3 linked regions of the Homo sapiens genome follow. The protein of the gene in region 3 purifies or fractionates together with the protein of the main gene of each other region. This does not show direct contact. Each region holds a gene or a part of one and is shown on either strand. Other genes may lie near its edges. The genes, in order: ACAT2, CTTNBP2NL and TNIK.

Region 1 (3,656 bases), on a different chromosome or scaffold from region 3:
GTGCAATATCTCAGCTTACTGCAACCTCCGCCTCTTAGGTTCAAGCAAGTCTCCTCCCTTGGCCTCCAGAGTAGCTGGGACTACAGGCACCTGCTGCAACACCTGGCTAATTTTTTGTAGTTTTAGTAGAGATGGGGTTTCACCGTGTTAGCCAGGATGGTCTCAATCTCCTGACCTCATGATCCGCCCGCCTCGGCCTCCCAAAGTGCTAGGATTACAGGCGTGAGCCACCGCGCCCGGCTGGAAGCTATTCTTTTGTTGTTGTTGTTGTTGTTGTGTCACTATGTTAACCAGACTGGAATGCAGTAGATACTCACAGGTGCAATCATAGTAGACTATGATAGCATTGCCCAGGCTAGACTCAAACTCTTGGACTCAAGCAATCTCTTGCCTCAGCTCTTGAGTAGGTGGGACTACAGGCACATACCACCATGCCTGGCTCCTTTAGTATTTCTTGTAGTGTAGGTGTGCAGGCAATTCATTTTCCTTCATCTAAAAATGGCTCTTCACTTTCACTCTTGTTTTTTTTTTTTTTGAGACAGAGTCTCACTCTGTTGCCCAGACTGGAGTGCAGTGGCATGATCTTTTTTTAACTTTTTGCTACAATTTGCTAAGGTGTAATTTTTCCCTTGTCTATCTTGGTCTTTGAACTTCTTTTCACACCAAATGTGGAAATTTTCTTCAGTTTTTTTCTGCCCCATTCTCTCTCTTCCTTATGTATGAGATTCCTATTCCATGCATGCTAGTCCTATTTATTTTGTCCTGCAGACCACCAAGGCTCTGTTCATTTATATTTTATTTTTTTGAGACGGAGTTTCATTCTTGTTGCTCAGGCTGGAGTGCAATGGCGTGATCTCAGCTCAACGCAACCTCCGCCTCCCAGGTTCAAGCGATTCTCCTGCCTCAGCCTCCCGAGTAGCTGGGATTACAGGCATGCGCCACCAGCCTGGCTAATTTTGTATTTTTAGTAGAGATGGAGTTTCTCCATGTTGGTCATGTGGGTCTCAAACTCCCGACCTCAGGTGATCTGCCTGCATTGACCTCCCAAAGTGCTGGGATTACAGGCATGAGCCACCACACCTGGCCTATTTTTTAATTTAATTTAATTTAATTTAATTTTTTGAGACAGAGTTTTGTTTGTTACCCAGGCTGGAGCGCAATGGTGTGATCTCAGCTTGCTGCAACCTCCACCTCCTGGGTTCAAGCTATTCTTCTGCCTCAGCCTCCCAAGTAGTTGGGATTACAGGCATGGGCCACCACATCCAGCTCATTTTTGTATTTTTAGTAGAGACAGGGTTTCCCCATGTTGGCCAGGCTGGTCTTGAACTCCTGACCTCAGATGATCTACCCGGCTTGGCCTCCCAAAGTGCTGGGATTACAAGCGTGAGCTACCGTGCCTGGCCTGTTCATTTATTCTTCATTATTTTTCTCTGTGTTCTTCAGGTCGTGTATATGATCTATCTTCAAACTTCCTGACCCTTTTTCTTCTGTCTCCAAGATGCTGTTAAGGCCATTCAGAATTTTTTTTTCTTTTTTTTTAGAGATGAGGTCTAACTATGTTGCTCAGCCTAGTCTCAAACCCCCAGCCTCAAGTGATCCTCCCACCTCAGCCTCCCAAGGTGCTGGGATTACAGGTGCGAGCCACCATGCCCGGCCCCATCCCAGTGAATTCTTAATTTCAGATTGTGTACTTTGCAAGTTCTAGAATTTCTATTTGGTTCTTGTTTATATTTTTTCCTTTTACTCCTGAGATGTCCACATCTATTCCTCTATGAAGATTATATTTTCCTTTGTATCTTTAAACATATGTAAAATAGAGCCTTTAAGATCCTCATCTGATAATTCTAGTATTGCAGGGTCTGTTGACTGTTGTGGTTTTTTTCCACCCTGGTTGTAAGCTATATTTTCCTAATTCTTTGTGTATCTAGAAAGTTCTCATTGCATGCTGAACATTATAGTTGCTACATAACTGGACATAGAGATTTTATTATCTTTAGAGAATATATTGAGTTTTGTTTCCACAAGCAGTCAAAATACTGGCAAATCACCTTGATCCTTTTGAGGCTTGTTTTTAAGCTTATTAGTTTGGGTCTAGAGTAGCTTTTACTCTATGGCTTTGGCCCTACCCCTAAACTGTGGTCTTTCTGAGATGTCAATGGAGTGTCCAAGGAGTTCAGTAAGGTTTCCACTCGCTTGTCCAGAACTTTTATCTCCTAGTAATCTATAAAATCTCCAGTTCACCTCTCCTTTGCAGCTCTTTTCTACTAGGCCTTGTAAGCTGTTATCTACAAGCTTAGTATTTGATCAAAGACTTAAGGGGAACCTTTTGCAGATTTCTGGAGCTCTTTTTTTCTTCTCCCCCTTATTCTGCCCCACAAACTCCAGCCATCTCAGAAGCCCCAAATTCTCTGCTTCTTCAGATCACTGAGACCACTGTTTCCAGCTTAGGCTCTGCCTCTCCATAACACAGTTTGGGAAGTGCCCTGGGTAGAGACAGTGACAGTGGGGTTTTCCCTTCTCTCAAGGATCTCAGTCTTACATGAGTATTAGTCAAAACCTGACATACATAAAACAGTGGCTTTATATATTTTCACAAGTTTTATGCTTGTTTATAGTAGGAAATCTAATCTTTGTCAATTACTCCATCATGACCTGAGCCTTTTTTCTTTTCTTTTTTTCTAAAGAAGAGCAATTTATTTTCTTACAGTTCTGGAGGCTGGAAGAGTACCATTCAATCCACAGTACACCTTGGAAAGGGCTCGGGATCTGAATTTTTAATGACCACCTCTAGTTATGGTTGAGGCAGTTGGTCACACAGTGTCTTCCATTGTCTGCCTGTGTTTTTATAGCCTTCTCTGTTGTGGCTGTAAGTCGAGAAGTGGTCAAGATGCCTTGAGCTTCTCATTGCTTCCCATATCCCTAAGCCCTTCCTTCCTTCCTAGCATTCATGCACACAGTTCCCTCTTGGAATCTTGTACTTTTCCCCATTACCTTTTTCACATATTTATGTGTTACATAAAACCAGAGCCATTGCTGCATGCATTTGAGCAAGGTGCTTAACTTCTCAGGGTTTGATTCTTTAACTCTAAAATGTCTATTCTGTTTCTTAAGTTTTACATGTATACTAAAGACAAGAGTGCTTTTGATTTCCCAGTTGCTTTGCCATTAAACTTAGACCACAGGACCCTTCAGCATGAATGACCAATAACCCAATTGTGTAGTACAAAAAGTACAGCTAGGTACCAAAAAAACAACTGGTTTATCTCTGTCACTACCTCTGCCACAGAAGCACTATTTGTGGGCCCTGTTTCTTCATTTGGTAAAATGAGGGGTTGATCCAGAAGAACTCTGAGGTACTTCCCACTTCTAACATTCTCTGATAATCAAGAGTTCACAAAGAAGAGAATACTTACTTCACTTCAGTTAATCAAAGAAGAGATATAAAAATCCTTAAGACAGTCTCTGGCCATAAGGACGAAAGCACCTAAGAAGCAGATTAGTATATGGTCTTTTTAACCTTTTTAAAGCTAATACAGTTTCAGCCATGTCTGCCTTACCTGTAATACCCATATGACAGTTGTGAAATGCATCTGTAAGACCATCACAGAGTATACTGTCAGTCAGTGGCATCTCACCTATCTTTACTCCTGTTCTCA
Region 2 (3,382 bases), on a different chromosome or scaffold from region 3:
ATCAAAAAGCAATAACTTGAAATTCACTCTGTAATATTATAGGTCAGTCAGAATTATACAAGTTTTACCAAATTGTTACACTTATTCTCCAAGCTGCCAGAACCTGGTATCTGTATCTGTAAAACCAAATTAACTTTTGCTTAAATGGGAAGTATACATATATCTGTATAGATACATTACCCCTTTACATGTTTAACATACACACACTTAAACACATAAATACTAGTGTGATTATATCTTTGGAGTTTGCAATATAGCATAAAGGACAAGTAGAACTGCACATTAAGATTACCTACCGAAGCAACTAGATGTGGCTGGGACACAATCAAAGGAGGAATTTTGTCCACAGGAAGGTGAGGAAATTCCAAATGAAGCCTAGATCTTCAGTATCATAAAAAGGCAGAGCTGGCCAGGCACAGTGGCTCATGCCTGTAATCTTATCACTTTGGGAGGCTGAGATGGGAGGATCTCTTGAGACCAGGTGTTCAAGACCAGCCTCATCAACATAGTGAGACCCCATCTCTATTAAAAAAATAAATAGGCAGAGCTAAACTAACCCCAGTGTCACAAAACTCAACTGGTCATATAAATGAGTGAAACAGGCCTCTCACACAAGCGATGTAAAACAGCTGGGAGCAGTGGGAGCTGTGGCAAACTAAAGTGCCCAAGCCGCATTTAAAAAGGGCATCTGTTCAGCTCCATCTGCTTGCTGCGGTGCAAGAATGCTAAACCAGGATTACCAGTTCTTCACATTTTTTGAAATCCAAATTTTCATGAGAAACATTCTCATTTTTAAATATCAAGAAGTGATTTTAAAATGTTTAAATGGTGCTGGTTAAACAAACACGTCTGCAGCTGGATTTAGCTTGCAAGCTGCCAAGTTGCAACCTCTTTCATTCTAGAAACTTCTGTCATTTTCATCATAGCAAGTCTATGCGGACAAAAGCCTCCAAACTTTCCAACTGTGTAGGCCAGTACAGCTGGCAAGGTTCATAGAATATAATGGCTATCCCCCTCTGCCAAATAAGACTATCCACAACCCAGCTCAGACACAGTGGTTATATGATTTTGTGTCCATACAGGAGAGGCCTTGGTGTCTTCACATACATTCTCTGAGCCAACATCTATCCAGCAGCCCTGACCTCCTGCTATAATTTAAGTCTATTTCCTTTTAATCTAATAAGAGTTGATAGTAAAAAGGCAGGTGATGGAAATCAGTGTATAAATCACAATGGAGTATATTGGCAACTCCACAGCTTATAGTTTGATAAAGGCAAATACATGAAAAATAAAAATGCTACTAATGCCCCAAGGTGTCTATCAAAATGATGTAGGGGGTATCTTAAACTGTCCAAGGCAATCATGCATTGAACTTTATTCCTATGCAGAGCCAAAACGAATAGTGTTGATAAAATAGCTAAACTTTCTAAACTGGAGAGGAGGCTACAGTGCCAGAGAGTTATTGTCTCTTTTGCTTTAAATGGTAATCTTAAAAGTTGCATTGTGCTCTTCCTTTGTTTTGGGATAGATATATATAGAGAGAGATACTATAAGGAAGTTTATTTCTTAGGAAGTGCACTGAATAATGTATTTCTTTTACAGTGTAATATGGGGGTGGGGATATGCGAAAGAAATGTGTATTTTTGCTAGTTGCCTACCTTCTGAGATAAATAAGCACAATCTTGCAATGGATCCAATAACCCAGTTAGGTATTATAGATTAGTATTTAAGTTTGCTGTAGATTGTGTGTGTGTGTGCTAAGTAAAAGTTCCATGATTCACAATTTTAGTATTAACCCATGTTGCAAAAGCTGTTACTGGCCAACAGATTGTAATGATGTGTACCATATAACACAAGCATTAACTAGGCATTAACGTTTGTAAAGCCAAATATACCATGCAGAAGTCTTCATTTTTATAGCAGACTGCATTAAAACAAGTTAAATCTTGCTGTTTGGGGGGAAATAGTCTTGTTTGTACAAAGTGAAAAATGGCACAATTTGGGCATATTTTGTTGGGAAGAGGGGGTGGTGTAGAGGGAGCACTTGACTGTGGCTTTGACAAAACAAATGAAGTCAATGACCCATCCAGGTTAGACTCCATAAGGAACTAAGACATTGATTTTCTTTAGAGTCTTAGAGCTGGAAAAAGCCTTTACAATAATCCAGTCTGTGATTTTTTAAACCTTTTGGTGGTTCTGGACCTTTTTGAGAATCTTAGAAAAGCCATGGAGTTTATCCCTAGAAAAATGAATATGCCTATATGCAAAATTTGTTTGATGGCTTCATAGGATCCAAAGACCCTGAAGCCATCCATGGCTCATGTATTTCTGCTTAAGAAAGCATAATCTTGTTCTGCTCTCTCATTTTACAAATGATTAATGCATCCCTTTTCAACTACTCCAGCGCTGTTGCTGCTGCAATGTTAGCAAATGCAAGCCAGAGAGAAGCACTTGAAAATCCTTTGATGTCTAAAAAATGTTCAAATAGTGTGGATGTTTACATATCTGAAGTTTTCAGCATTTAAGCAAATTAATGATCATTTCAACAAATACTAGCATATCCGGTTTCCCTTAATAGCCTGTCAGCAGTGCTGCCTTGTCAATTTGTGTGTGTGTGTGTGTATGTGTGTGTGTGTGTGAATTCATAAGGAGTGCTTCTGATGCTTAGTCCTTGAAATGGAACTTCAACTGTCTTTCAAAACACTGGCTTCAAAATAGGATGTGTTTTCCTAATGAATCAGAAGTGGGCAATGAGCATTGTTCCACAGGAATAATTTTTAATTTAATTTCTATAAAACTAGTTGAGAAATGAGAGCCTGTCCACCCACCATTTGTGTATCAGTGGCCAATTCATTAGTAAAAATAAAGGAGGGGAAAGGAGACTGGAGTAGTGGTTCTCAAACTTTACTGTGCGTAAGTATAACCTGGGAAGCCTGCTAAAATAAAGATTTCTGGAGATTAGATCCTCAGACTAGCTGATGCAGCTAGTCTGTTTTGAGAAACAGTCCTTCATAGCCCTTACCTGTTCTTTCACAACAACTTGCTATTTGCCTCTGACCTAAGGAAATGTCTTAAGCTCCTGAAACTGGTTTGGCAGAATGTCAGTGATATTCAGAGTCAAGAGTGCCTACTTGAGTACCAAGCACCATGCTAATGATTTCACATACATATTACCTTATTAATCCTCACACGGGTGCTGTGAGGTATTATTATCCCCAGTGTAGTGATGAGGTAGTTGAGGGCCAGAGATCTGTGCAAGGGCCCTTAGCATATGACAGCCAGGATTTAAACCTTAGTGCTTTGTTCTTTCACTACCAGTATTTCCCAAATGAGAGTCTCTGGGGAGGAGCAGATTCCCAGGCTCCTCCCCTGGCGATTCTGA
Region 3 (3,656 bases):
ACATACAAGCAACTTTATAACCATCTTTGTATCCATACTTTGTTAGACTGGTTTTTGTGTTGTGGGAATGACTGATTCACTAAGATGTCCAGGATGTTGGCAATCCAGTTGAGGGACGTGGTATAACGGGACCCAGCACTGCATTCGAATTTCATCCTTGGACAAGACAAGTAACTTCTCTGACCCCAAATTTCTACCTACAAAAGAGGTAAATTGGATCACCAATCACCAAGCCCTAGGCAGACAGATAGATAAGTAGATATATAGACAAAGATATGCAAACACAATCCCCCTTTACTTTTCATTTTAGCCTTAACATGGTTTTATGGCTTTATCCTATTTATGCCTTTTATCAGAAGGTGCCACAACTTACTTTTTGGAGGTATGAGGTGTAATAAATAAATAAGATCCCTTTTAAATGAATGAATTAATTGCATTCACACAATTGATATTTATTCAATCAACATTTATCATGTGCCAGACACAGTTCAAAGCACCAGGAATGTGGTGCTGAACATGCAGGCAAGATCCCTATTCTCACAAAACTTATTAGGCTCCAGTTGGGACAGCCAGATTTTTAAAAAATTCAGATAGTCACGACTGCCTTAAAGATAATAAAGCACTGAATTGGACAGTTTCAGGGTGGAAGGGAGTGTTACTTTACAGATATATTGCAAAGAAAGCCTCTCTGTTTAGTAGGGAGCCTCTAAGAGGGCCCTCAGTGACTTCTGCCTTCTGGTGTTAGTTAATATTCTTGTGTAGTCCCCTTCGAAATGAATAGGGCTGACTTGGGTAGCCAACAGGGTATTGCAGAAATGATGGTGTGTGATTTCCAAGGCTAGGTCATAAAAGACATAGTGGCTTCTGCTCTGCTTTCTTGATTCCTCTATCTGGTAAAAGTGGGCACGATGTTATGAGGATGCTCAAGCAACCAATGGAGCCACCTACGTGGGGAGGAACTGAGGCCTCCTGCCAACATCCAGCACCACATAAGTAAATCATCTTGGAAAGAGATCCTCCAGCTCCAGTCAAGCCTTCAGAAGATAGCTCACCTTGCCAAAATCTTCCTGCAACCTCAGGAGATACCTCATGCTAAAACCACCCAGGTAAGCCACTTCTGAATTCCTGGCCCACAGAAACTGTGAGATATAATAAATGGTTATTGTTGTTTAGGCCACTAAGCTTGAGGGTAGTCTGCTATGCAGATACATAAGTAATAATACAGGCAGCATCTCACCTTAGACCTAAATAATAAGATGGAGCCCTCCATGTGAAATTTCTGACACGGAGAACTACAAGAATGAGCTTGGCATATTCACAAAACAGAAAAAAATCAGTGTGGCTAGAGTGTAGTAAAAGACAAGTGCAGGCTCTCTTCTCCATCCAACCATGGGTGTAGAAACCATGCCAATGTTGTCTTCAGCTCAGCCCCAGCAACTAGTAGCACCCAATAATCAGGTACTGAATGAATATATACACAAACAAATAAATGAATGAATGCTGGATACCATGTGCATTTCTTCCCCTACAGTTAATCACATTTCACAGAATCACAGAATACTGGGCCTGAATTTACCCTGCACCCAAACTTGCACCTTCTAATACACTAATCAAACAAATGTTTGTAACATATGCAATGTATTGTTAAAGTCTACAAATTTCCTACTTGATGCATACTGCCAAGGTTCTAATTTCACTAACTAGAGAGACAGCACTTTAAAATCTAGGGTTACTTCAGAGTCTAAATCCGGGTATCCAGCAGCAACACTGTAAGGGAGTACCCAGCGGAAGTCACAGTCAGCCCTTCGTCCTATCACTCGGTCTTCAAAAACTAGAACAACACTTTAAATTATAAATCAGAATCTGACAGCTGGAAAAAAATAGCTCATTTAAAAATTAGAAAGGGATGTTACGTTCAGTGGCAATTCCCAGCTCATTGAGGTGCACAGTTTGCAATCTCTTGGTATCTCCAACAGATAGAATAAGAATCCATGGCTATTTAAATGCCCTCAGTCCTGCCTCTAGTTCCCTTACATATTCCAGGAATATGCATCCCAGCAATACAAATTGCTGGAAGTCACCTCCAGCAATTTCTAGTCCAAACCACTCATCTTACATGTGACAAAACTGAAGCTTAGAGGGCAAGGTGTCAGAGCCAGCTTTATGACGCTGGGCTCTAACTCCCAGCTGTGTGCCTCATTAAACCTCACCATCTCCCAAACTCTCTCTACCCGCTCACTGCCAGCTCTGTCAAGATAAAAACTCAACGTTGTCTTCCAGTGGGCCACCCCAGAAGCACACCCTTTCCCGCCCATCTATTACTGTTTAATCAAAACAGCAGTCATAAGTATTATCCGATTGTTGAAATAATTGAAACACACTCCAAACACACACACACACACACACACACACACACACACACACACACATACGCCTTGCAATTCTAACCCATGGTATTTTAAATCTCTCAAAACTTAGAATAAGACAATGGAGAGAACACTTTCCTTGGCAGAAAAATTCTAGAAATAGGAATACCTACCCAGGACCAGGCATAGTATTTCTCGTAATTGGTGCCCCCGGAATTGTACTCTATGTAATTAGCATCCACTGGAATTGTACTCTACATAAAAAGTGTCCCCAGGAGTCATGCAACCTAGACTATAATGTAATTCATGATCCCTGAAATTGTGCCATGGTCAGCAACAGGCCCCACCTTTCTGAGGTTTCTATACTCTCTCTACATAGCACCACCTCCAGCCCTTCTAAAAGGGTTGCACAGTATATATTTTGTTAATTCAAAATTTATTTGTTGAACGAACGCCTGCTGTGTAAAGAAAACTGGTGAGGATCCCTAAGAAAATCAAACGTTGCCTCTAAAAAGGAATTGTCTAGTAGTGAATATAATCCAAGACAGAAAGTTCTGAGTGTTATGAAAGAGGTGTGAGGTCAGTTCTGAGACAGTCTATGAGTGGGAGGGACAACTTGAGAGAAATCAGAGACTTCTGTGGAAAAGGTGGTCTGCGAATGTTCAGCGTTGGGGCAGTAGGTACAGAAAGGAGACTAAGACAGAGCGCCCCCTACAGAGCATCCATGGGGGAATGAAATTGTTCCCTGCCGCAATGGGGGAGTGGTCGTCAAAACTGCAGAGCTCGGTGGGAGGCCCCTCTGAATTGCCGCTGGTCTTAACATGCTAAAGAGTTTAGTTTTCAGTCTGTAGACTAAGGAGACAGAGAAGGCCTTGAATAAAAACAACCAGATTGAAACTGTGCGTTTGGAAGACTCACGTGGCTACAGTGTACGAGAAACCAGTCAGAAGAAGGCTGGTGGTAGAGACACAGGAGGAGGGGAGGTCCTGTTGCGGGTGTTGCCCAGGGGACAGTAACTACAGCACTTGCAGGGAACAGTGGAGACAAGGGGACCCATATGATAAACATTAAGGGAAGAATTTTAAGTTGGGGTGATATAAAATGTGTTTTGAGAAACTGAGGGCACCCCCATGAGACAACCAGGACATGTAAAAAAGAGTGGATAGAATCATGTTTCTCTAAAGGGAAATAAGCTTCCAACCAGACTGGAAGGAATCACAAGCGGAATTCATCCAACATTTTCTACTTAAGTCCTCCCTCTCTCTCCACTAGAGACCTTATATTTATATG

What was found.
Region 1: the proteins of TNIK (region 3) and ACAT2 purify together in Homo sapiens (co-immunoprecipitation; one large-scale study listed by IntAct). This does not show direct contact.
Region 2: the proteins of TNIK (region 3) and CTTNBP2NL purify together in Homo sapiens (affinity purification with mass spectrometry; 2 studies listed by BioGRID and IntAct, with this or other methods). This does not show direct contact.

Annotation. Positions count from the first base shown.
Region 1 is NC_000006.12:159,768,530-159,772,185, reverse strand, and holds part of ACAT2 (acetyl-CoA acetyltransferase, cytosolic), read right to left. Parts: coding exon 3,558-3,656; intron 1-3,557. UniProt on the Homo sapiens protein: Involved in the biosynthetic pathway of cholesterol.
Region 2 is NC_000001.11:112,458,283-112,461,664, forward strand, and holds the end of CTTNBP2NL (CTTNBP2 N-terminal-like protein), read left to right. Parts: 3' UTR 1-2,882; downstream 2,883-3,382. UniProt on the Homo sapiens protein: Regulates lamellipodial actin dynamics in a CTTN-dependent manner. Associates with core striatin-interacting phosphatase and kinase (STRIPAK) complex to form CTTNBP2NL-STRIPAK complexes.
Region 3 is NC_000003.12:171,450,344-171,453,999, forward strand, and holds part of TNIK (TRAF2 and NCK-interacting protein kinase), read right to left. Parts: intron 198-3,656; exon of another isoform or gene 1-197. UniProt on the Homo sapiens protein: Serine/threonine kinase that acts as an essential activator of the Wnt signaling pathway. Recruited to promoters of Wnt target genes and required to activate their expression. May act by phosphorylating TCF4/TCF7L2.